Linked DNA regions of Homo sapiens: all the other regions are linked to region 5. Evidence: fine-mapped expression QTL. A gene starts in region 5. Each other region holds a variant in brackets. All regions are shown on one strand. Distances are between the middles of the regions. Region 1 has its middle 24 kb from the start of ATF7IP2. Region 2 overlaps ATF7IP2 (activating transcription factor 7 interacting protein 2). Region 3 has its middle 80 kb from the start of GRIN2A. Region 4 has its middle 51 kb from the start of ATF7IP2. Region 5 holds the start of ATF7IP2 (activating transcription factor 7 interacting protein 2).

Region 1 (5,106 bases), 24 kb after region 5:
GTTGAAACTCTATCTTAAAAAAAAAAAAAAAAAAAAAAAAAAGGAATACAATCTCTAACAGATTAAATTGTTAAATTAGTCTTGTATAGAAAACTTTATAATCCTCAGACCAGGCTTGGTGGCTCACTCCTGTAATCCCAGCACTTTGGGAGGCTGAGACGGGCAGATCATGAGGTCAGGAGTTCGAGACCAGCCTGGCCAACATGGTGAAATCCCGTCTCTACTAAAAATACAAAAATTAGTCAGGCATGGTCATGGGCACCTGTAATCCCAGCTACTCCTTGAATCTGGGAGGTGAAGGTTGCAGTGAGCTGAGATCATGCTTTTGCACTCCAGCCTGGGCGACAAGAGCAAAAAACTCCATCTCAAAAAAAAATAAAAAGAAAAGAAAACATAATCCTGTTAATTTCCTTTGTTTTCTGTGTATGTGAGCAAGAACTTAGCTTTTAACTTGAGTACACTGATTCCATTTTCTCTAGTGCTCATGTCTCCAGACAAGAAAATGACTGCCCTCTTGGGTTTTAGACTTTCATGGGGCCTGCAGCCCTTTTATTTTGGCCAATTTCTCCCATTTGGAATGGGAACAATTAACGAATGCCTGTACCCCCATTGCATCTTGGAAATAACTAACTTGCTTTGTATTTTACAGGCTCCTAGGCAGAAGGGACTTGCCTTGTCTCTGATGAGACTTTGGAGTCACACTTTTGGGCTAATACTAGAATGAGGTAAGACTTTGGGGGACTGTTTCCTTTCCATGTTTTTTTTTTTTTTCCTCAAGATGTCGCCCAGGGTAGAGTGCAGTGGCGGGATCTCGGCTCACTGCAACCTCCACCTTCCGGGTTCAAGCAATTCTCCTGCCTCAGCCTCCTAAGTAGTTGGGATTACAGGGGCATGCTACCACGTTTGGCTAATTTTTATATTTTTAGTAGAGACGGGGTTTCACCATATTGGTCAAGCTTGTCTTGAACTCCTGACCTCAGGTGATCCACCCAGCTTGGCCTCCCAAAGTGCTGGGATTACAGGCATGAGCCACCATACTTGGCCTCCTTTCCAATTTAAAAGAGTATATTTAACATTCCATCTTAGACATTGTGATAGCTGTGAAGTCTTTGTGTGAGAAAGGTTTATTCAAGTGAAAAGCCATTCCCAGCTTTTCACTTGAATAAACTCTTTAAAACTGGATTTTAAGCCTTTCAATTATTTCAGGTTGACATAACTAAATAGAACAAGATTATATACTCTTAGAATGCATTCAGACTGTGAACTATAAAATTACTCCATTCTTGTTAAAGCTTTACTTTTGGGGAATTCACATCAATGGGTATCAGAGCTAGGCACAGTGATGTGGTTAAAAGAAAGGCGCCTCGGCTGGGCACAGTGGCTCATGACTGTAATCCCAGTACTTTGGGAGGCCGAGGTGGGCAGATCACCTGGGGTCAGAAGTTTGAGACCAGCCTGGCCAATGTAGTGAAACCCTGTCTCTACTAAAAATACAAAAATTAGTCAGGCATGGTGGTGGGAGCCTATAATACCAGCTACTCGAGAGGCTGAGGCAGGAGAATCGCTTAAACCTGGGGTGTGGGGCAGAGGTTGCAGTGAGCTGAGATCGAGCCATTGCACTCCAGTCTGGGTGACAGAGGGAGACTCTGTCCCAAAAAAAAAAAAAAACAAAAACAGAAAAAAGAAAATAAAAAAAAAGAAAGGTGCCTCACCACAGATGGTGTTGCAGACTATGTCTTTGATAACATAGTTTATGGAAATATTTACAGAGTGAAAATTACGCAAATGGGTAAAGGTACAATGTTCCTAGCTCCCTGGACTCCCCACATGACTGTGAGAGAGGAGACAGGGGCTGGTTAGGCAGATAAGAGGCGGAGGACCTCAGAAGAAAGATAATGCCTACAGGAATGCACCCGCAACCACCCCTGTTATACAGCTAGCAGA[T/C]GGAAATGTGGTTAAGAACTTCCTCTTTTACTAGAATTTTTGCTCAAAAGGATGTTTGTCCCGACTTAGACACAGGCACAATAAATCAACTAAATGTCCTTAACCTGACCCAAGCTCATTATAATATCATTAATATGACATCTGCAGTGCAGTTTTACCCCCCCTCAGTGGGCTTTTCTGTGGTGCTTATGGCTAATAACTAACATGGAGTAACTATAGAGAAGAACGCACCTGCGCACTAACAACTGGGACCAGGAAGCAGCCAGGAAGCAGAGGTTTGTGTACGATGCAAATGAGAAAAACACCCCTAGAAAGGAAGGATACAAGCCCCTGGGAAGGCTGGGCATGGTGGCTCACACCTGTAATTCCAGCACTTTGTGAGGCTGAGGCAGGCAGATTGCTTGAGGTCGGGAGTTCGAGACCAGCCTGGCCAACATGGTGAAATCCCGTCTCTATCAAAAATACAAAAATTAGCCAGGCGTGGTGGTGCATGTCTGTAATCACAGCTACTTGGGAGGCTGAGGCAGGATAATCGCTTGAACCTGGGAGACGGAGGTTGCAATGAGCCGAGATCGTGACATTGCACTCCAGCCTGGGCAACAGAGCAAGACTCCATCTCAAAAAACAAAACAAAACAAAACAAAACACCCTGGGGCTGACCTTGTTGGTGGCAACCCACTTTCAGGACCCCTGTCTTTACTGAGAACTTTCTGTTGCTTAATAAAACTCTACTCTGTGCCAGGCATGGTGGCTCATGCCTGTAATCCCAGCAATTTGGGAGGCCAAGGCAGGTGGATCACCTGAAGTCAGTAGTTCGAGACCAGCCTGGCCAACATGGTGAAACCCTCTCTGTACTAAAAACACAAAAATTAGCTGGGCATGGTGGCAGGTGCCTGTAATCCCAGCTACTCAGAAGGCTGAAGCAGGAGAATCGTTTGAACTCGGGAAGCAGAGGTTGCAGTGAGCCGAGATCGTGTCATTGCACTCCAGCCTGGGTGACAAGAGTGAAACTGTCTCAAAAAACAAAAAAACAAAAAAACAAAAAAACTCTACTCTGCCTTACCTACCCTCCTGTGTCCAATAAGGAAACTGTGACAATTGTATCAGTACCAAACATAAGGCCCAAGTGGAGTGATGAGTCCAGCAGGAGAACACTGCTTTTCCCCCTTGTATTAGTCCATTCTCACACTGCTATGAATATACTACCTGAGACTGGGTAATTTATAAAGAAAGGAGGTTTAATTGACTTATAGTTCTGCATGTCTGGAAGGGTTTGGGAAATGTACAATCATGGCGGAAGGTGAAGGGGAAGCAAGGCACCTCTTACATGGTGTCAGGAAAGAGAGCGAGTGCAGGGGAAACTGCCACATTTTTTGTTTGTTTGTTTTGTTTGAGATGGAGTCTCGCTCTGTCACCCAGGCTGGAGTGCAGTGGTGCTATCTTGGTTCACTGCAACCTCCGCCCCCTAGGTTCAAAGGATTCTCCTGCCTCAGCTTCCCGAGTAGCTGGGACTACAGGCACGTGCCACCGTGCCCAGCTAATTTTTTGTATTTTTAGTAGAGACGGTGTTTCACCTTGTTAGCCAGGATGGTCTCGATCTCCTGATCTTGTGATCTGCCCACCTTAGCCTCCCAAAGTGCTGGGATTACAGGTGTGAGCCACTGCGCCTGGCCGAAACTGCCACTTTTAAAGCATCAGATCTCATGAGAATTCTCTATCATAAGAACGGCATGGGGGAAACCGTCCCCACAATCCAATCACCTCCCACCGGATCCCTCTCTTGACACGTGGGGATTACAATTTCAGAAGAGATTTGAGTGGGGACACAGAGGCAAACCATATCACCCCTCCAGATTTCGGAGAGATTTTGCATATTTATGGTCCCTCCCTGGAGGGAATAGACTTAGGTTATCTATCTGCCTGTTTACTATATGCTTGTTATCAGTCTCCCGTCTGCAGTGTGTTGATGGGAAACGTTGACATGACTTGATGCTCATCAGTCTAGTAGCCAGCACAAACAAACTCAGCATATTCCTGGCCATTTACTTGAAGGGATCAAAGGCTAGTCTCCAAGATGCTTACATCAGAAGTAGGCTCTGTATCTGAGGTCCGTTTCTGCTTAGATTATTTCAAATATTTTACTAAAGTGAGACTTTGCTTCGATATTTGTTTCCATCATATGAGTTCAAGTTTGAGTCATTCCAAAATTTTTTTCTTTTTTAATGAAGTCAACTTTATGGATGTAAAAATTACATAAAGCAAAAGGCACATATTTTAAGTGTACAATGAGTTTGGAGAAGTATAGACATTGTCATACCAAAGATGAACTTCCATCACCATCCCCACATTCCCTTATGCCCTTTGCAATCATCCCCCAACCACTGATCACCAACCCCATAAAACTCATCTTCTTTCAATTAAAATGTATTAGTTGCCTTGTTTTAGAATTTATTCTAAGTGGGATTATGCAGTACTGTATTTTAAAATTATTGTTCTTTTCTTCAGCATAACTTCTTTTCTTTTTTTTTTAAGAGTTGGGATCTCTGTCATCCAGAGCACAGTGGTGCAATCATAGCTCACTGCAGTCTCCAACTCTGGGGCTCAAGCGATTCTCCCTCAACCTCCCATGTAGCTGGGATTACAGGCACTCCCCACTGTGCCTGGCTTCTTTTTTACTTTTTGGTATCAAAAATACTTAGCTAAACCCAAAAAAGATACCAATTTTGGTCATGCAACAGCTCGATTTAGTTTGAATAATTCAGACATAAGCAACTATATTAGAAAAAGAGAGGGTAATTATTTTTCCCTTTTCAACTAACACAGAAAAGTCATTACCAAAAGAAAACATTGGATGGTGTGTTGACAACTAAACTTTCTAAAGGAAATTGAGAAAAGGAGAATAGGGAACCTCACATTCATCTACATCAGGAAAGCGCCTTTATCCAAATAACTCTTTCATACACTGAACTCATGATCTATTTACTCTTTTGAAAGCAAAAGCAATATGTATTTCCTAGCTTTCCATGCTGAAAAACCCAGGAAAAATGACCAACCTAATGGCTATGAACTCCCCCAGTGTTCAGTTAAAATGTTATTTCCCACTCCACGAAACCATGGCTTCCTGAAGAAATAGTTGATTGCAGGTCTCAGACAGAAAAGCAC
Region 2 (5,106 bases), 85 kb before region 5:
AAACAAGATGGGTATTTTTGAGAGAGAGAAAAGTTATCATTGGAAATGTAAGGTTAAAATTTTTTTTTTTTTTTTTTTGAGACGGAGTCTTGCTGTTTTGCCCAGGCTGGAGTGCAGTAGCACGATCTCAGCTCACTGCAGTCTCTGCCTCCAAGGTTCAAGCAATTCTCCTGCCTCACCCTCCAGAGTAGCTGGGATTACAGGCACCTGCCACCATGCCTGGCTAATTTTTGTATTTTTAATACAGATGGGGTTTCATTTTGTTGGCCAGGCTGGTCTTGAACTCCTGACCTCAGGTGATCTGCCTGCCTCAGCCTCCCAAAGTGCTTGGATTACAGGTGTGAGCCACCACACCCAGACTGACTAGACAAATTTTAAATCTTAAGTAGACTATAAGATAACTTAATAGATAAAAAATAAGAAGACAAAAAACAAACCGTCACTACCATCAAAAAAAGGCCAGGGCAAACCATTAAAAATAAGTAGTTTTTACAAGTTATAAAGTCATTAAACACATAAAAGAAACAAAAGGCCCTAAACTGATAAAACACAAGGTTAAAATGAAATCTCAATTACATTAAGGAATCATTTATTTAGGTAATATTAACCATGATATAAATTAGAACATTTGAGAGTACATTTAACTTTTTCATTTTATTAAAAGATATTATTCAATTTTTCACTTTAAAGCAAACATTGATTTAAGGCCTTCTAACTTGATAGATCATATTCTAATCAGCTATAAGATACCTGTTGGATTTGATGTAATTGGAGTTGTCAAATTAGGACTTTCCACAGAAATCAACATAACATCATCATTGTTACTAAAATGATAAAAAGAAATTAAAAACAAAAACTAAACATGCATTATCAGGCTTAAACATGCAATTAGTGGTTAGGAGTCCTCTAACTTAACATTTCATAATGTTTTAATTGAACAATCGTGGGGGGAAATAGAAATGATAAAACCAAATACCCAAAAAAACTCCATTTATTACCAGTTCCGTTATATGACTAAAGATTCATCAAAATCCAATAATTAGATCCCTACTACATTTTATGGGTCTTTCACAATGACTCAAAATATATATAAGTATACAATGGACATAAATGTATAAAACATACAAATTCCTTTGAGCGTATATACTTACTTCTATAAAAATGAAACATCATGTAATGAAGGAAATCTATTAAGACCCATAAAGACACCTGGACTCCTAAAGGTAGAAAACTATAACAAAGAAAATTATTTTAAAAAGAACTGCTACTACTCTTCATTTTATCTCTCCAGTAGCAATATTTACCACAAATTTGAGACAATGATGATAAATGATGCTGATTACGGTTATAGAATATTTCAAGCCATTTTGACCCTTTTTTTTTATGAGCGACTTTTTTGTTTTTTGAGATGGAGTTTTGCTCTTGTCCCCCAGGCTGAAGTGCAGTGGCGCAATCTTGGCTCACCGAAACCTCTGTCTCCCAGGTTCAAGCGATTCTCCTGCCTCAGCCTCTTCAGTAGCTGGGATTACAAGCATATGCCACCATGCCCGGCTAATTTTTCTATTTTTAGTAGAGACAGGGTTTCACCATGTTGGTCAGGCTGGTCTTGAACTCCTGACCTCAGGTGATCCGCCCACCTTGGCCTCCCAAAGTGCTGGGATTACAGGTGTGAGCCACTGCGCCCAGTCCAATTATACCATTTTCTTGCAGACATCTTCTGTTTTTACTGTTTGTACTTAGGTGTATGATCCATTTTGAGTTAATTTTTGTTTATGGTATGAAGTAAGAGCTGAGGTTCACTTTTCCCTCTATTCCAGCAACATTTTTGAAAAGAACATCTTTTCCTGTTAAACTACATCGGTACCTTTGTTGTAAACCAATGAACTACATGTGCAGTCTCTAGTGTGTCCACTGGTCAACATACCTATCCCTATGCCAACACCACTGTCTTAATACTACACCTTTATAGTTAAGTCTTGAACAAAGATAGTGTAGTCTTCTAACTTTCTTTCCCAACATTGTTTTCATCTTCTGGGTCTCTGCATTTTCATATATATATTCACACACACACACACACACATATATATACACACACATATATATATATATACACACACACATATATATATATACATATATATATATTTTTAAGAGACAGACTCGTGCTCTGTCTCCCAGGCTGGAGTGTAGTGGTGCAAATGTATCTTGCTGAAGCCTGAACCTCTGGGCTCAAAAGATCCTCTCATCTCGGCCTCCTAAGTAGCTGGGATGACAGCATGTGTCACCAGGCCTGGCTAACTTTTT[A/T]AAAAAATTTTTTTAAAAATGTTTTTTTATGTTGGCCAGGCTGGTCTTGAACTCCTGACCTCAAGTGATCCTCCTGCCCTGGCCTCCCAAGATGCTGGGATTATAAGTGTAAGCCATCATGCCTGGCCTTAAGTTTTTAATCAGTTTGTTACTTACTACAAAAACGGCTGAGGCATTGATAGATATACAATTTGGGGTGAAGTAACATCTTAATGAATTCATGAAAGTTACATATCTCACCACTTATTTAGGTCTCCTTTAATTTCTTCAGTAATACTTTGTAGTTTTAGGTTAGGTGGTTTTGGTTTATCCCTAAATATATTATGTTCTCTGAAGTCATTGTAAATGGCATCCATTTTAAATTTCAAATTCCAATTGTTTCTTGCTTGTGTGTGTGTATATATATAATTTCTAAACTATATATTCTACATATATATAGGATGTAGTGTTTCTATATAGAGTGTGTTGTGTGTATACACTATAAAGAAACAAAAATATTTTCTATTTGCCAACATATTTACAATGTCTGTCAGTCTATATTACTTTGTACAGATCCAAATTTCTATTTAATACTATTTTCCTTTTGCCTGAAAAATCTCCTCCAAAATTTCTTGTAATGTAGGTCTGTTGATGTATTCTCTCCCTTTTTTTTGGCTTAAAAAGTCTGTTTTTCCCCTACACTTTGGAAACATATTTTCACTGCATATAGAATTCTGAATGGACTTTTTTTTTTTTTTAAACTTTCAATACTTTAGAAGTATCTATGATCTCAATTTTAGAGATGTCTTCTAGTTTGCACAGCTTACAGCAAGAAGTATGGTGCCATTCTTACTTTTTGTTCCTTTTTTGTTTTTTGAGACGGTGTTTTGCTCGTTTCCCAGGCTGGAGTGCAGTGGCATGATCTCGGCTCACCGCAACCTCTGCCTCCTTGGTTCAAAGTGATTCTCCTGCCTCAGCCTCCCGAGTAGCTGGGATTACAGGCATGCGCCACAATGCTGGGCTAATTTTATATTTTTAGTAGAGACGGGGTTTTCTCCATGTTGGTCAGACTTTCTGTTCCTTTCTATGTGATGTGTCTTTTGTGTGGCTACTTTTTAAAATTTTCCCTTCCTCACTGACTTTCAGCAATCTGATGATGTGGTTTTGTATGCTTTCATGTTTCTTCTGCTTGAATTTAACATTTTTTCATTTATGGATTTAGAATTTGCATCAACTATGGAAAATTTTCAGACACTGTATCTTCAAACATTTGCTCAGCTCCTGCCTTAGTGATACTCCAATAATGTGTATTAGACTGCCTGATACTGTTCCATAGGTCTCTGATGCTCTGTTCATTGTTTTTTCAGTCTTTTTCCTCTCCATGCTTTAGACTGAACATTTTCTATACCTCTTTCACTGATATATTGGCAATAGCTCTTTTAGGTCGTCTGCTAAGTCCAAATTATTTCTAGGTAGATCACTTCATTCTTCTCCTTGTTGATAGGTCATATTTTTTGCTATGTTGCATGCCTGGGAATTTCTTATTAGATGTCAGATATTGTAAAATTTATGCTGTTGGGTAATGGATGTTGTTTCATTTCTTCAGAAGAGTGTTAGACTTTGTTCTGGCATGCAATTAAATTACTTAGGATTAGCCTGATTCCTTTGAAGCTTGCTTTTGGCTTTTCTGTGTATAGATTCTTTGCAGTCTCTGGGACTAATTGAGCCCCACTAAAGCAATAACCATCTGTGGACCCTACCTGTTACTTCTGATTATAAATTTTCTTCATTTTAGCCAAGGGGAAAGCAAAATGTTACCAATCTTTCTTCTAGCCAGGGGGAAAACAAGATGTATGACTTCTAGGAATCAATCACTTGGCCTTCTTTCCAATAGTTCTTTCCCCAGTCTCTCGTAGTTTCATCCTTTGCATACAGATCTGTATTCAGCCAATATTTCAAGGCCCCTTTGCAGATCTTCAGAGCTCTATCTGAATTTTTTTCTCTTCACTGTTCCACTTCATAAATTCTGGTCAACTCAGATTCTCCAATCTCTGACCTAAACTCAGCAAGACCACAAGGCTCTGTTTGGAATCCCTCCTCCATCCCTGCTCTTGACCTGGAAAATGCCTCCAGGCAGGAAGCTGGGACAATGGTAGAGTTCATGTCATTTGTTTTCCCAATCATGATCCTAAACTCCTGGTAGAACAATATCTGAAAATAATTTTTCAGCCTGATTTGCCTTGTTTATAGCAAAATGTCAGTTCCTGTAGCTGTTGACTGCATGGGGAGAGGCAAAAATCATGTTCATTTTTCAGTTTATGCTCAACAGTTTTCCATGCAGATTTAAAAAAACACAAATTCAACAATTTTTTAAATATCACATTTCTCAATGGGACTCTAACATTTGCCATTATTTCTAAGAAACAAAAACAAATATTTAAATCTAAATTTTATTAAGAATATTTGATTTGGGCCAGGCACGGTGGCTCATGCCTGTAATCCCAGCACTTTGGGAGGTGGAGGTGGGAGGATCACCTGAGGTCGGGAGTTCGAGACCAGCCTGACCAACATGGAGAAACCCCGTCTCTACTAAAAAATACAAAATTAGTCGGGCATGGTGGCACGTGCCTTTAATCCCAGCTACTCGGGAGGCTGAGGCAGGAGAAACGCTTAAACTCGGAAGGCAGAGGTTGTGGTAAGCCAAGATCATGACATTGCACTCTAGCCTGGACAACAAGAGCAAAACTCTGTCTCAAAAAAAAAAAAAAAAAAGAATATTTGATTTTTGGCTGATTTTTGGCTGGGCGCCATGGCTCACACCTG
Region 3 (5,106 bases), 120 kb after region 5:
TCATGCCATTTATCACTGTCTGAGAATCCTATTAGCTGCTATATTTGTTTCCTGAAGCTGCCGTAACACGGTACCAGGCACTGGGAGGTTTAAACAACAGAAATTTATTCCGTCACAGTTCTGGAGGCCAGAAGTCTGAGATCGAAGTTAGGAATGACTGCACTCTCCCGTGAGGCTCTAGGGGAGAATGTCTCCTTGCCTCTCCCAGCTTCTGGTGGCCCCAGCACTCCTCGGGGTTCCTCCATTTGTAGATGGGTCAGTCCCATCTGGGCCTCCGCCTGCACATGGGCTTCTCCTCCCATGTCTGTCTGTGTCCAAATTACCCTCACATATGTATATGGTTTTTTTTCATATTTATTTATTTATTTTTTCAGACAGGGTCTTGTTCTTTTGCCCAGGCTGGAGTGCAGGGGTGCTATCATGGCTCACTGCAGCCTCAACCTCACAGGCTCAAGCTATCCTCCCACCTCAGCCTCCCAAGTAGCTGGGACCACAGGTACATGCCACCACACCCAGCTAATTTTTTAATTTTTTGTAGAGACAGGGTTTTACCATGTTGCCCAGGCTGGCCTCGAACTGTTGGGCTCAAGTGGTCCTCCCACCTCAGCCTCCCAAAGTGCTGAGATTACAGGCATGAGCCACCGCACCCGGCCTCCTCCTTTTATAAAGGGATTCATCAGTCAGTGAATTTAAGGCCCACCGAATCCCGTATAACCTCATCTTACCTTGATTATATCTATAAAGACTTTATTTTCCAATAAGGTCACTGGGGGTTAGGACTTGAGCATATCTTTTTGGGGGACACAATTCTACCCATTCCAAATGTTAATTCGTTTATTTAATTTATCTTTTAAAAATCTTTTTTCCTGCCCCACTAGGATATAAGCTCCATGGAGGCCAACTTGGTCCTTTTTCCCTGGTCTAGCTCCAGTGTCAAGGGCAGTGTTTGAGACAAAAAAGTTGTTCAAAACCAGTTCATTGTGCCAGGCACAGTGGTTCACGCCTGTAATCCCAACACTTTGGGAGGCTGAGGCGGGTGGATCACGAGGTCAGGAGCTTGAGACCAGCCTGACCAACATGGTGAAACCCCATGTCTTCTAAAAATACAAAAATTAGCCTGGCGTGGTGGCGCACACCTGTAGTCCCAGCTACTCAGGAGGCTGAGGCAGGAGAATTGCTTGAACCCAGGAGGCAGAGGTTGCAGTAAGCTGAGATTGCGCCACTGCACTCTAGCCTGGGCGACGGAGCGAGACTCCGTGTCAGAAAAGAAAAAAACAAAAAAAGAATTTTAAACTCTGACTCAAATATCGAGATGAACGTTCTGGCATCGACACATGTCCAGCACTACTCTCACCTCCACAGTTTGGGACGAGTGCCCTAGAAAACAGCAGTGACCTTGTAAAAACCCTGGAAGAAAAGCTTCACCTAGGGAGTGTCACAAAGTTTCAGCCAGAACAAAAAATAGCTTGTAGCAGTCAATGCATTATTATTAGCCTTTCATGAGCAAGCATTGGTCACAGAGATTTTGTGTTTGAAAATGGCAAAATGTGCCTGTATCCAAAAGAAATGAAACCTGCAGAGAGGTTTTATGTCTGCACTTGATCAGTATTAATATGGAAAAAATAATAAACTTCTTTTTACATGTCACATTCTGGTTGACTGCAGGGATCCCAGAAACATTGCTATTAACACAATTCTTACAAGTGTTGGCCTCTCCACTGAGCCCCACCCATAGTGAAGTGCCATTATCTGCTCTTTTCTTCTCCTGAGATTCTTCACATTACGGCTCAAAGCGCTGATCTGCCAATCTCATCAACAGGCTGGATGCAGTTCAGAACAGAGGAAGTAGCTATTTAATTGGTCACAGTTCTCAACTAGCACCACTCAAGTTTAATAACATTTATACTATCTCCAGTTCTTTTTTTAAAATTAAAATGAATTTTTTTTTGAGACAGAGTCTTGCTGTGTTGTTCAGGCTGGAATGCAGTGGCACGATCTCAGCTCACTACAGCATCTGTCTCCTGGGCTCAAGCCGTCCTCCCATCTCAGCCTCCCAAATAGCTGGGACTACAGGCATGCACCACCATACCAAGGTAATTTTTGTATTTTTGGTAGAGACAGGGTTTCGGCATGTTGCCCATGCTGGTCTTGAACTCCTGAGATCAAGCAGTCCTCCTGCTTTGGCCTCCCGAAGTACTGGGATTACAAGAATGAGCCATGGCCTCCGGCCTCCAGTTCTTGTGAGGACATTGGAATATAACTGTTTTTTTGTTTGTTTTTCCTTCTGGGGCTTGGGGGATTTCTCTGGTGAAACCACCTTGAAATACAGAAGGCAGCAGAACCTGGAGATTTTGAAAACAGACGTGGTTCAGAACCCTCTTCATGTCCTTTACTAGGTGTGTGACCTTGGGCAAGACACTGAACCACTATGAACCTCAGTCTCCTCATTTGTAAAATGAGAACTAATATTTGCTTGTCAGTTTAAGCTAGGGATTAAATGAGATATTATAAGTGAAGTTCCTAGTCTAGTGTTTGTAAAGGGATCAAGCCATTTTTTATTTTTGATTTAGGGGTGGGCCTGGAGGAAGTGAGGGTGAGGATATTACTGCTTTGAATGTTGTTTGGAATCGATTCATTAGAATTATGCAAGTTGAGCTGGCATTGCAGTTTACTCTTTGTTTTAAACCTCTTCAGCAAATACAAGGAGCATGAAAAAAGGCAGTAAGAGGTATATTTGGAATAATA[C/T]GGAATTGCAAAATGGTAGCTATTTCTTGCCTTTCATGTCGTTTAGTGTCCCAGGGTCTGGGACTTAAGTGCCTCAGGAAGGACTCTAATGTGTCTTGGGTGTAGATACTTTCTCCCTCCATACCTCCTATACTTCTACCAGATAATTCACTTTATGTTTTTACTTTTTATTTATTTATTTTTGAGACTGAGTCTCACTCTGTCGCCCAGGCTGGAGTGCAGTGGTGCGATCTCGGCTCACAGCAACTTCCACCTTTTTGGTTCAAGCAATTTTCCTACCTGAGCCTCTCAAGTAGCCAGGACTACAGGTGCATGCCACCATGCCTGGCTAATTTTTGTATTAACTACAGGCATGAGCCACCATGACTGGCCTCGTGATAATTAACTTTAGTATTAAAGTTATAAATGGATAACCAAAGTGCATATTAAAACTTCTTAAAAGTAGCATTGGTGATTACTGCAAATTATTGACGCTGTGGAGTGTAGCGTTAATGTGATACCCTACCTTGTTTTAGCCTGATTGACTGTCACTTAGCTGAGAGAGCCAGACAGACTCCGTTTTCGTTTCTTCACTTGCAGCCCCTTATCCTCCTCCCTTAAGGACATAACTGGTACAAGCTGACTCCAAGCACATCCAGGCATCCAGGAATGCACTTACTGATAAGATACTGAGGCAAGCTGTACCAGCAGCTCCTGGGAACTCGCTCGGTTGATGGTACCCAAAGCCCCTGCATTTATCTCTTTGTGATAGTTTAAGCCCCTGCACCTGGAACTGTTTATTTTTCTGTAACTGTTTCTGTAACCATTTATCTTTTAACTTTTTGCCTGTTCTGCTTCTGTGAAATTGCTTCAGCTAGGCTCCCCCTCCCCTTTTTAAACCAAGATATAAAAGGAAATCTAGCCCCTTCTTCGAGGCCGACAGAGTTTTTGAGCTCTAGCCGTCTCTCGGTCGCCGGCAGTAAAGGACTCCTGAATTAGTCTCAGAGTGTGGCGTTTCTCTATAACTCACTCGGTTACGACATTAAGACTATGATCCAATGCCAGCTCCCACCCTTACTGGCTGTGTGTCAAGGGTCCAGTCACTCTACCTCTCTGAGCTGCAATGTGCTCATCTGTAAGACAGGAATCATAATAAGATCCACCCCCTAATTAGATGAGTTTGCATGTGAGAAGTACCTAGAAGAGTATCTGACATGGAATGGGCACGTTGCAAATGTAAGCCCTCATTTTGGCTAAGGCTTTTCCCATTGCTATCGAAAAGTCTTTTGTGCCTCTTGAGTATGTTTTTCCACGATCACTTATTTTGCTTACTGTTCATCTGGATGGAAATTTTAGACGCAAACAAGGGGGGCAGTAGTCTAAACACATCCCTCAAAAATCAGAAACTGGAACTGAGTTTGCAATAGGCAATTTTCTTGACTTTTGCCATAAGCACCATCGGATAGAATCGTTACGGAATAGAATCATGACTTGAGAGAAATTTAATCTTTTGGGGTGTGGGAGCTACAACCTTAGACATTTCTTTGGATGTGAGGAGTGAGATTGATACCACGGTCAGGTCCCTGAGCCCAAGCTAAGCCATCGTATCCCCTGTGACCTGCACGTATATATCCAGATGGCCTGAAGCAACTGAAGAGCCACAAAAGAAGTGAAAATAGCCTTAACTGATGACATTCCACCATTGTGATTTGTTCCTGCCCCACCCTAACTGATACACATATTCTCCCCCGCCCTTAAGAAGGTACTTTGTAATATTCTCCCCGCCCTTAAGAATATACTTTGTACGCCTATCCTAAACCTAAAGAACTAGTTATAATCCCACCAGCCTTTGCTGACTCCATTTTGGACTCAGCCCACCTGCACCCAGGTGAAATAAACAGCCTTGTTGCTCACACAAAGCCTGTTTGATGGACTCTCTTCACACGGACGCGTGTGACAGTCACCTCTATGGAGGATGTTTGCTTCACCGCTTTACTGCACACAAAATGGCACCAGAGATTGCTATATTTCTTTTTAAAAAATAGAGTCTACTTGGTCAAGAATGCTTTTGCTTTTTCATCTCTTAGGGCTCATTTTGGAGCTGAATTAAATGTTTTAAATGAGGTCAGGCATGGTGGCTCACGCCTGCAATCCTAGCACTTTGGGAGGCTGAGGAGGGCAGATCACTTGAGGTCAGGAGTTCAAGACCAGCCTGGCCAACATGGTGAAACCTTGTCTCTACTAAAAATACAAAAATTAGCCAGGCGTGTTGGCATATGCCTGTAATCCCAGCTACCGGGAAGGCTGAGGCAAGAGAATTGCTTGAACCTGGGAGGCAGGGGTTGCAGTGGGCCAAGATCGAGCCACTGCACTCCACCCTGG
Region 4 (5,106 bases), 50 kb after region 5:
TGTGTGCCACTACACCCAGCTAATTTTTGTATTTTTAGTGGAGATGGGGTTTCGCCATGTTGGCCAGGCTGGCCTTGAACTCCTGACCTCAGGTGATTCACCCACCTCAGCCTCCCAAATTGCTGGGATTACAGGCGTGAGCCACCGCGCCCGGCCTGCAAGCTACTTCTTTTGTTGGCTCCTGTATTGCATACATATAAGCCGTTTTTCTCGTGTTAATCTAGCTTTCTTCACCTTAATTCGCAGTCCGCCACACCCCCCACCACCCAAAAGAACCTAAAAGGGTAGAGGAAAAGTTTTTCCTCCTCCACACCATAAATAGTCACAAGTCAGGCTTTGCTACCAAATGAGTTCACTGGGGAAAAAAATCAATTTAGTTTTAAAACTATTTTGGATGTGAATTTTGGAAGTGCACTTAAGAGGAAGTGCACTTAAAGAACTTGGGTCAGGTGCAGTGGCTCACACCTGTAATCCCAGCCCTTTGGGAGGCTGAGGTGGGCGGATCACTTGAGGTCAGGAGTTTGAGACCAGCGTGGCCAATGCGGTGAAACCCCATCTCTACCAAAAATATAAAAAGTTAGCTGGGTGTGGTGGTGCATGCCTGTAATCCCAGCTACTGGGGAGGCCGAGGCAGGAGAATCACTGGGACCCAGGAGGCAGAGGTTGCAGTGAGCCTAGATCATGCCACTGCACTCTGGCCCAGATGACAGAACAAGACTCTGCCTCAAAAAAAAAAAAAAAAAGTGCTGGGCGCAGTGGCTCATGCTTGTAATCCCAGCACTTTGTGAGGCTGAGGCGGGCGGATCACGAGGTCAGGAGATCGAGACCACGGTGAAACCCTGTCTCTACTAAAAATACACACAAAAAAATAAGATTAGCCAGGCGTGGTGGAGGGCGCCTGTAGTCCCAGCTACTTGGAGAGGCTGAGGCAGGAGGATGGCGTGAACCCAGGAGGCGGAGGTTGCAGCGAGCCAAGATCGCGCCACTGCACTCCACCCTGGGTGACAGAGAGAGATGCCATCTCAAAAAAAAAAAAAAAAAAAAAAAAAGAATAGCAAGGGTGGAGGGTTGGCTGTGGGTGGGGAAGTTTTGAAAAATGTTACCGGAATATACTTACCCATTGCTACTGTGAATATATAAAGACGTATGGCATATAAGATCTTCTGGTGCCAGGCATGGTGGCTCACACTTCTAATCTCAGCACTTTGTGAGGTTAGCTTGAGCCCAGGAGTTTGAGACCAGCCTGAACAACATGGCAAAATCTTGTGTCTATGAAAACTACAAAAATTCGCAGGACCTGGTGGCGCTCACCTGTAGTCCCGGCTACTCAGGAGGCTAAGGTGGAAGAATCACTTGAGCCTGGGAGGTCAAGGCTGCAGGGAACCCTGATCATGCCACTGCACTGCAGCCTGGGAGACAAAGTGAGACCCTGTCTCAAAAAAAAAAAAAAAAAAAAAAAGATGTTCTTGCAGTTTTCTTATGATTTGCTCTACGGTGTGATTAATAACAGTTGCTGTTGCAATAATTCCTGCTATATTTTGACACAGTGCTGTGAAAAGAAATCCAACATGGAGGCCAGGCGTGGTGGCTCACGCCTGCAATCCCAGCACTTTGGGAGGCCGAGGTGGGCGGATCACCTGAGGTCGGGAGCTCGAGACCAGCCTGGCCAACATGGAGAAACCCTGTCTCTATTAAAAATACAAAATTAGCTGGGCATTGTGGCACATGCCTGTAATCCCAGCTACTAAGGAGGCTGAGGCAGGAGAATCGCTTGAACCTAGGAGGCGGAGGTTGCGGTGAGCCGAGATTGCGCCATTGCACTCCAGTCTGGGAAACGAGCAAAACTCCGTCTCAAAAAAAAAAAAAAAGAAAGAAAGCCAACGTGGAGATGATTTGTCGGAGGTCTCTGTCAAGGAGCCAGGAGGGCAAAAGTTGGCCCTCAGTCATATATGGATCCAGAGGGATCTGACCTGTTTGAACTGGGCCAGATCGCAAACGTTCTGGAGAAGCAGCTTCATTGGGTTTGAACTGCTCACACTGGGGCAGATCACGAACCTCCTGAAGACACAGCTGTGCTGAATTTTAAGCTGATCATGGCCTAGAGTCTTTCTAAGCTGTCAGCTGGCCTATAGGGGGAGGAAAAAACAAACAAATGAAAAAAACAAGAAGAAATGTTTTATTCAAGGAATACAGGCCCCTTTAAGCCATCAGGCCAAAGAGGCATTGAAATGAAACAGCAGTTAGGTTACTTCCCTTTGAATTAATAATCA[C/T]CTTATTTTTTATTTTTTTTTTTCAGAGACAGGGTCCGCCTCTGTGGCCCAGGCTGGACTGCAGTGGCACCGTCACAGCTCACTGCAGCCTCCCCCTCCTGGGCTCAAGTGATCCTCCCATCTCAGCCTCCTGAGTAGCTGGGACTGCAAGCACACACCAGCATGCATGGCTAATTTTTAAATTTTTTGTAGAGACAGGGTCTCACTGTGTTGTCTAGGCTGGTCTCAAACTCTTAGGCCCAAGCAATCCTCTGGCTTTCACCCCTGAGTAGCTGGGGCTACAGGTGTGCACCACCATGTCCGGCTAAATTTTTAAAAAGTTTTCAGCAGAGATATAGTCGCCCTATGTTGCCCAGGCTGGTCTCACACTCCTGGGCTCAAGTCATCCTCCCACTTCAACCTCCCAAAGTGCTGGGATTACAGGCTTGAGTCACTGCACCCAGCCAAATAATAATCACCTCTTGAAGCCACTTGCTGTGTGGCTTCTACACTTAACTAAGGCCACGTACCCCTAAAATACCAAATGCCCTACAGTTCACCAATATATAGCCAATCACTAGCCAATGTTATTTCTGTAAACCCATGAGAATTCCTAACAATGTTTGTAATCACCCTCTCTCCTCATTGGTTATTTTTTCTTTAAAAACTTCAGCCTCTCTAATGTCCTCTGGAGCACGCCCCACAGCAAGTTGGAAGTGTGTCCTGGACTGCTGCCCTCAACCTTGACCCAAATAAACTTTATATTAATATTGTCTCAGCTTCTCCCTTTGAGGTTGACAGGTCATGTGTCAATCACAGACTGTGCTACTGTCTTCCGCTTAGGTAAACTTGCAGTAAACCTTTAGAAACCCCTGCCTAGAGTCTTGCCTGGCTGAAACACGTTTTAGCTACTTGCTAGATTTGTTTCTCCCAAATTGCAATGCATAAAAACCCTGATTAAAATGCCTTCCTGGGCCAGGTGCAGTGACTCACGCCTGTAATTCCAGCACTTTGGGAGGCCAAGGATGGTGGATCACCTGAGGTCAGGAATGCCAGACCAGCCTGGCCAACATGGGGAAACCCCATCTCTACAAAAATACAAAAATTAGCCGGGCATGATGGCGGATGCCTGTAGTCCCAGCTACTCAGGAGGCTGAGGTGGGAGAATCATTTGAATCTGGGAGGTGGAGATTGCATGGAGCTGAGATCACTCCACTGCACTCCAGCCTGGGTGACAGATCGAGACTCTGTCTCAAAAATAAAATGGGCGGGGCACGGTGGCTCACGCTTGTCATCCCAGCACTTTGGGAAGCCGACATGGGCAGATCACAGGGTCAGGAGTTCGAGACCAGCCTGGCCAACATGGTGAAGCCCCGTCTCCACTAAAAATACAAAATGAGCCGGGTGTGGTGGCGCATGTCTGTAATCCAAGCTACTCGGGAGGCTGAGGCAGGAGAATCACTTGAACCCCTGGAGGCAGAGCTTTCAGTAAGCTGAGATCGTGCCACTGGACTCTACCCTGGATGACAAAGCGAGACTCTGTGTCAAAAAAATAAAAATAAAATAAAATAAAAGTCCCTCCCTTTGTTTGTGGCTCCCCAGTGTTGGTTGATAGTGCATGGATGAAATGTATAATGCCTCCTGAGTTCTCCTGCCCTTCAGGAAGGTTTTTTACACATATAGTGGCCTCAGATGCATTTCTTGATTTGGAGTTGAGGGTGGAATCTTGGCAGAATTGACAGAAGAGGCACCAGTGGGACAGAGGAGGGACAAGGGGAGCAACCTTTTTTTTGTTTAATAATGAGGGGGGAGGCGATGGCCTTCTCCTCCTTCCTCCCAGGGTGTCTCCTTAAAAACATAACAGGCCCCACAAAAAGTTGAAGGAGTGAAGAACGTGCCAACCCAAAATATGCTAGATTGGCATATTGATTATTTCGAGTTGAAAACATTGATGAAATTGTGGTTGGTATGTTTGCTTGTTTTATTTATTTTGAGATAGAGTCTCATTTTGTTGCCCAGGCTGGAGTGCAATGGCGCAATCACAGCTCACTGCAGCCTTCACCTCCTGGGCCCAAGCATTTGTCCTACTTCAGCTTCCTGAGTAGCTGGGTCTGTAGGTGTGCATCACCACACCCACTCAAGAGGAAATATACACTTTTTTTTTTTTTTGAGACGGAGTCTCTCTCTGTGTCACCCAGGCTGGAGGGCAGTGGTGCGATCTCGGCTCACTGCAACCTCCGCCTCCCGGGTTCAAGCGATTCTCCTACCTTAGCCTCCCAAGCAGCTGGGACTACAGGTATGCGCCATCACGCCCAGCTAATTTTTGTATTTTTAGTAGAGACGGGGTTTCACCATGTTGGCCAGGATGATCTCGATCTCTTGACCTTGTGATCTGCCCACCTCAGCCTCCCAAAGTGCTGGAATTACAGGCATGAGCCACCCCATCCGGCCCACATTTTATTAGTTTTACATGTACATGGGGATCTTCACAAGAAACAAAAAAATGATTCTTTTTTTTAGATGGAATCTTGCTCTATTGCCCAGGCTGGAGCGTAGTGGCGTGATCTCAGCTCACTGCAACTTCCGCCTCCTAGATTCAAGCAGTTCTCCTGTCTGAGCCTCCTGAGTAGCTGGGATTACAGGCACACACCACTACGTCCAGCTAATTTTTGTGTTTTTAGTACAGAAGGGGTTTCATCATGTTGGCCAGGCTGGTCTTGAAGTCCTGAGCCCAAGTGATGTGCCTGCCTTGGCCTCCCATAGTGCTGGGATTACAGGTGTCAGTCACCGTGCTCGGGCCCAAGAATGTGATTCTTCACGAGCAGGAAGATTGGTTGGGCCCAAGAGTTTGAGACCA
Region 5 (5,106 bases):
GGCTGAGGCAGGAGAATCACTTGAACCCGGAGGGAGGAGGTTGCAGTGAGCCGAGATCGCGCCACTTCACTCCAGCCTGAGCCAAAGAGCGAATCTCTGCCTCACAAAGAAAAATAAATAAGTAAAATAAAATAAAATAAACGAGATAGATAAGTCACCGCAGTGTGTGTGTGTCCGGGTGGCGGGGGGAGGGGGGGGGAGTAAAATAGACTGACATAGAATGAGAGAATAAGATTTTTTGGTATTTTGTATCATCTCGCTCAACAATGAGAACTAATACTCTTGCGCATTTAAAGTTGTATTTTATTTTTAACTATCCAATATATTAAACTTTGATTACATCAAATGAAATAGATTGTGCACACTCACTATAAGAGAGCTATGATATATGCAGAAGCAAAGGTGCAGGGATCATGCAATAGTTTCGTACCAGATTTCAAGATACCAAGTAGCAAGGAAACACAATGGAATTGAAGGCTGAGGTGAAGTACAGGCATAAGGCAAGGAAAGCAGAACATTCAAGATGTACCTATATACACCAGTTCTTAAAACACGCAAATCATTTCCAATAAGGCACTGGCTCATGTATTTCTGTTGAGGCAGAAGTCAATCTTAGGATGTGGTCTGTACATATCTGCAGATAAGACTGAGAGTGAAGTAAATTTGATTAAGATCGGAGTCAACACTTCTACAAACGTATTGCAGAATAAACGAGCTAAGAAGAAAGGCATACTTCACAAAAGCTGAATTCAGTGTTATTAGTCCTTCATTCAGATGCTTCATTTTTGCATTTTCAATTGCTTTCCTGTGATATAACTTATCTTTATCTTGGTCTTCCCCATTTGTTTTGCAAATAGTTATGTCGCAGGTCATTTACTGGCTACAATAAATATGACAAAATCATAATAAAAACAGTATTAAGTCGCAATCTAGAATAACAATTTAAGTGAATATGACATAATTTTTCTAATGTGGACTATTCAGTACAACTGTCCTCTTCTTCCATACATATTAACCATATGCAAGTCTTCAGAACAGAAAAAGCCATTGTGTCGTAAAGGAAGGAACACGTGGTTAGAAACTTCATTTTCAACACAGAAACACGGAAAGGTAGAAAGTCCGTTTCCTTAAGTGCGGTAAGGTTTTAACAAAAATAAGGCAAAAAAAATTATTGCGTCCTCTCTTTCTCAAACTTGCTTGCCAAACTTGGAGAAAACTGGTTAGAGAAGGGCGATAAGATGGAATTTTCTTAAAAACATATTCATAAAAACGAACTTCTACCTTAAGGAAATCGTCTTCCTTAAATCCTACCATCCTTACACCGGCAAGCTCAGAGGTACGGGATTTCAGCATTTTACTCAGAATTTTGTATTTTTCCTGATGCTCTGGTCCCTACTTTTTAACAAACTTCAAGGCCGCCAGGCGAGATCCAGTTGCCTTCTGGCACCTGACTTCATTAGATGATTAAAACAACTCAAGAAAATTTGGCAATGGGACACTAAAATTGGTGGAGGTGGAGATTTATCCGTTAATTTCTGAAAGCATTCCGGACAAGAGCGAGCTTTTACTTACCCCTCAGGACAAAAAACACGCACCACTTCCCTCCGCAGTCCCTAACCCCAGTGCCGCCCGGACCTGAGGCCGCACACCACTCCCGCTTCACCAGTATCCCTCTGCGAAAACGGTGGAGACGCGCCCGTCCGCCCCTCAGGGGCCTCTTCCCGGACCTGTCAGACGGCCCCGCGGACGCTTTTCAGTCAGGGCAGCTTCGCCGCAAACGTCCGGTAGGCCCGGCGCTCCGAGGCCTCCGGGGCCGGCCCTCAGAGAGGCGACCGACGCTCCTAGAGCCGCCACCCCGCCAATCGCCGCTCTCGCAGGACACTCGCCCGGCCCCAACGTACCTAGAGCGACGACGCACCAGCCGCAGCAATACCCACAGCCACTTCGAACCGCAGCCGTTAACAATGCTGGTCCGGCCAGGACCTGCTGAAGTAGGTCTCCCTACGCCCACCCCCAGCTGATTATGGACCAATGGCAGCGCGAATATGCGGCAGCCCAGCCAGTCAGGCACAGCCAGCTAGAGTGGGCGGGGCGAAGGGTCGCGAGGGGAAATGGAAGTAGGCTGAGGGGCGCCTGGGGTTCGCCTCCGTGGGCGCTTCTTCCGGTCAGCCACCGGGGCTTACCCGCCATAGCGCAGATGCAGGCTCCTGAGCTGGGCCTTTCTTTTGAGTGACTCGTGTGAAGATTTAGACTTTCGAAACTTATTAGGAATAAGACCTTATTTACAAAAACAACTCCTCACCCGGTCGGTAGTTTCCGATTTGAATTTTCTAATATTGTTTGAAAATATTTATCTTATTTACTTTTTTGGACGACTCCTTAAATTTTGTGACTCAGGAGATTGGTCCTAGCACCGTAGTCTTTTTTTTTTTTTTTTTTTTTTGAGACGGAGTTTCGCTCTTGTCGCCCAGGCTGGAGTTCAGTGGCGTGATCTCAGCTCACTGTACCCCCATTTCCCACCTCCCAGGTTCAAGCGATTCTCCTGCCTTAGCCTCCCGAGTAGCTGGGACCACAGGTGTGCACCACCATGCCCGGCTAATTTTTGTACTTTTAATAGACATGGGGTTTCACTATGTTGGCCAGGCTGGTCTTGAACTCCTGGACCTCAGGTGATCCGCCACCTCTGCCTCCCCATATGTTGGGATTACAGGCATGAGCCACTGCACCCACCCGCACCATAGCCTTGAGTTTGCTAAATTGTCCCAGGAACCTGCCAGCCTTGGCTGCTTGTGATTTCATGAGGCCCGATGCCTTAGGTGGCTGTGCACTTGGATGCCATGAACTCACTCAACAGGTGGTCACTGAATGCCCACTGTGTAGAAAATACAGGAAATACAACAGTAGATTAGATCCATAATGCCCTCTTTTTCATTAATTAATTTATTTATTTATTTGACAGAGTTTTGCTCTTGTTGCCTAGGCTGGAGTGCAATGGCGCGATCTCGGCTCACCACAACCTCCGCCTCCCGGGTTCAAGCGCTTCTCCTACCTCTGCCCCCAACAAGTAGCTGGGATTATAGGCATGCGCCACAGTGCCTGGCTAAGTTTTTTTTTTATTTTTAGTAGAGACGGGGTTTCTCAATGTTGATCAGGCTGGTCATGAACTCCCGACCTCAGGTAATCCACCTGCTTCGGCCTCCCAAAGTGCTGGGATTACAGGCGTGAGCCACCACGCTTGTCATGAGGCTAGAGCTGCCTGCCTTGTCACTTCCAGTTAGGAGAAAAATGAGGCAAGTCCGGACAATCTAGGTTGGGTCATCAATGGAATAACATACTCCAACCAGCCAGTTCCCCAAATATGCTCCAGGGATCTAGGGGTAATCTTTAATGTCAATCCTATTTTTATAATTATACTATTTTTATAATAATATAAAGATGATTTTGCTTTTTTCATTCTCTGAGTCAGGAGAGTACATGGAATTTTCTAGAAGCCTCTGGAAAATCGACGGGTGATATTGCTACAGATTGAATACAGAAGCAGACATGAGAATCTAACTACCAACCTGGGCAACAAAGTGAGATACCCACTTTTCTAGAAAAGTAAAAATAAAAAGTTAGCTGCATCCTTCCACCTACACGGGAGGCTGAGAGGACGGGAGGATCGCTTAAGCTTAGGAGTTAGGGACTGCAGTGAGCTGTGATAGTGTCACTGCACTCCACCCTGGGTGATAGAGCAAGAGACTGTCTTAGAAAAGAGAGAGAGAGAGGCCAAGCGCAGTGGCTCACATCTGTAATCCCAGCACTTTGGGAGGCTGAGGCAGCCGGATCATGAGGTCAATAGTTCGAGACCAGCCTGGCCAACATAGTGAAACCCCATCTCTACTAAAAATACAAAAATTAGCCGGGCATGGTGGCGCGTGCCTGTAATCCCAGCTACTCGGGAGGCTGAAGCAGGAGAATCGACTGAACCCGAGAGGTGGAGTTTGTGGTAAGCCAAGATCGCACTACTGCACCCCAGCATGGGCAACAGAGTGAGACTCCGTCTCAAAAACCAAAAAAAAAAAAAAAAGAGAGAGAGAGTCTTACTGTATTAAGTCAGACGTTAAGGAAATTAGCAAAAATGTAAAACAATCCTAATCTTTGCACATTTTTTGTTGTTCTAGAACATGATTTTGAAAATAATTATAGGGTTGCTAAGAGAGATAGTGTGGGAGGGAGTGGGAGGTAGTAAGTTGCAGTCAGATAAGGAATTTGGACTTAATTCAGTTAACAGTGAGTAACTAGCCTTTAGAAATGTTATGTCTATTTAAGGTACTAGGATATCTTGTATGTCATTTTAACAATAGTAATATAATAGGCCAGGTGGACACCTGTAATCCTAGCATTTTAGGATGCCAAGACCGACAGATAGCTTGAGCCCAGGAGTTTGAGACCAGCCTGGGCAATATAGCGAGACCCCATCTCTATAAAAAAATTATAATAATTGATATTTACTGGACATTATGTTAATAAAGTTTATTGTTGGCTGGGTGCGGTGGCTCATGCCTGTAATCCCAGCACTTTGGGAGGCCAAGGTGGGCAGATCACTTGAGATCAAGACCATCCTGGCCAACATGGTGAAACCCTGTCTCTACTAAAAATACAAAAATTAGCTGGGCATGATGGTGCGCACCTGTAGTCCCAGCTACTTGGGAGACTGAGGTAGGAGAATTGCTTGAACCTGAAAGAAGGAGGTTGCAATGAGTCAAGATCACGCCACTGCACTCCAGCCTGGTGACAGAGCGAGACTCCATCTCAATAAATAAATAAATAAATTCATTCACATAATGTGCTATATGAAGTACTATGAAGTCTCTCAATTTGCTGTTTGACTTTTTAAAATAATGCTTAACATAATAACAGATACAGTTGCTTGTACATTTCCTGACTTATAGTAGACACTTGATGTATAGTAACTATTATTATTAAAATTAATAAAGCTGAGAATATCAATTATCTTGAGTAAATTCTTTACATTTTTGTGTTGGAATGCTTTCTTGTTTGATAGTTTTCTTCCATTGAGGATTGTGGCGGGCAGAATTTGTACTCCCATGATCTTTGTCTCCT

The links.
Region 1: its variant is fine-mapped to the expression of ATF7IP2 in whole blood (TOPMed, PIP above 0.99).
Region 2: its variant is fine-mapped to the expression of ATF7IP2 in whole blood (TOPMed, PIP 0.96).
Region 3: its variant is fine-mapped to the expression of ATF7IP2 in thyroid (GTEx, PIP above 0.99).
Region 4: its variant is fine-mapped to the expression of ATF7IP2 in whole blood (TOPMed, PIP above 0.99).

Annotation. Positions count from the first base shown.
Region 1 is chr16:10,359,300-10,364,405 of GRCh38, reverse strand. No RefSeq gene overlaps it. Among named protein-coding and RNA genes, the nearest start is that of ATF7IP2, 24 kb to the left of the region's middle. The variant T/C (reference allele first, on the strand shown) is at 1,945.
Region 2 is chr16:10,467,828-10,472,933 of GRCh38, reverse strand. ATF7IP2 (activating transcription factor 7 interacting protein 2) reads right to left here. Exons shown (of 14, transcript NM_001393719.1): 10 at 751-824. Among named protein-coding and RNA genes, the nearest start is that of LINC01290, 58 kb to the left of the region's middle. The variant A/T (reference allele first, on the strand shown) is at 2,305.
Region 3 is chr16:10,259,999-10,265,104 of GRCh38, reverse strand. No RefSeq gene overlaps it. Among named protein-coding and RNA genes, the nearest start is that of GRIN2A, 80 kb to the right of the region's middle. The variant C/T (reference allele first, on the strand shown) is at 2,746.
Region 4 is chr16:10,332,731-10,337,836 of GRCh38, reverse strand. No RefSeq gene overlaps it. Among named protein-coding and RNA genes, the nearest start is that of ATF7IP2, 51 kb to the left of the region's middle. The variant C/T (reference allele first, on the strand shown) is at 2,271.
Region 5 is chr16:10,382,918-10,388,023 of GRCh38, reverse strand. It overlaps ATF7IP2 (activating transcription factor 7 interacting protein 2), which reads right to left and starts at 1,963. Exons shown (of 14, transcript NM_001393719.1): 1 at 1,902-1,963. RefSeq lists a silencer at 2,085-2,224.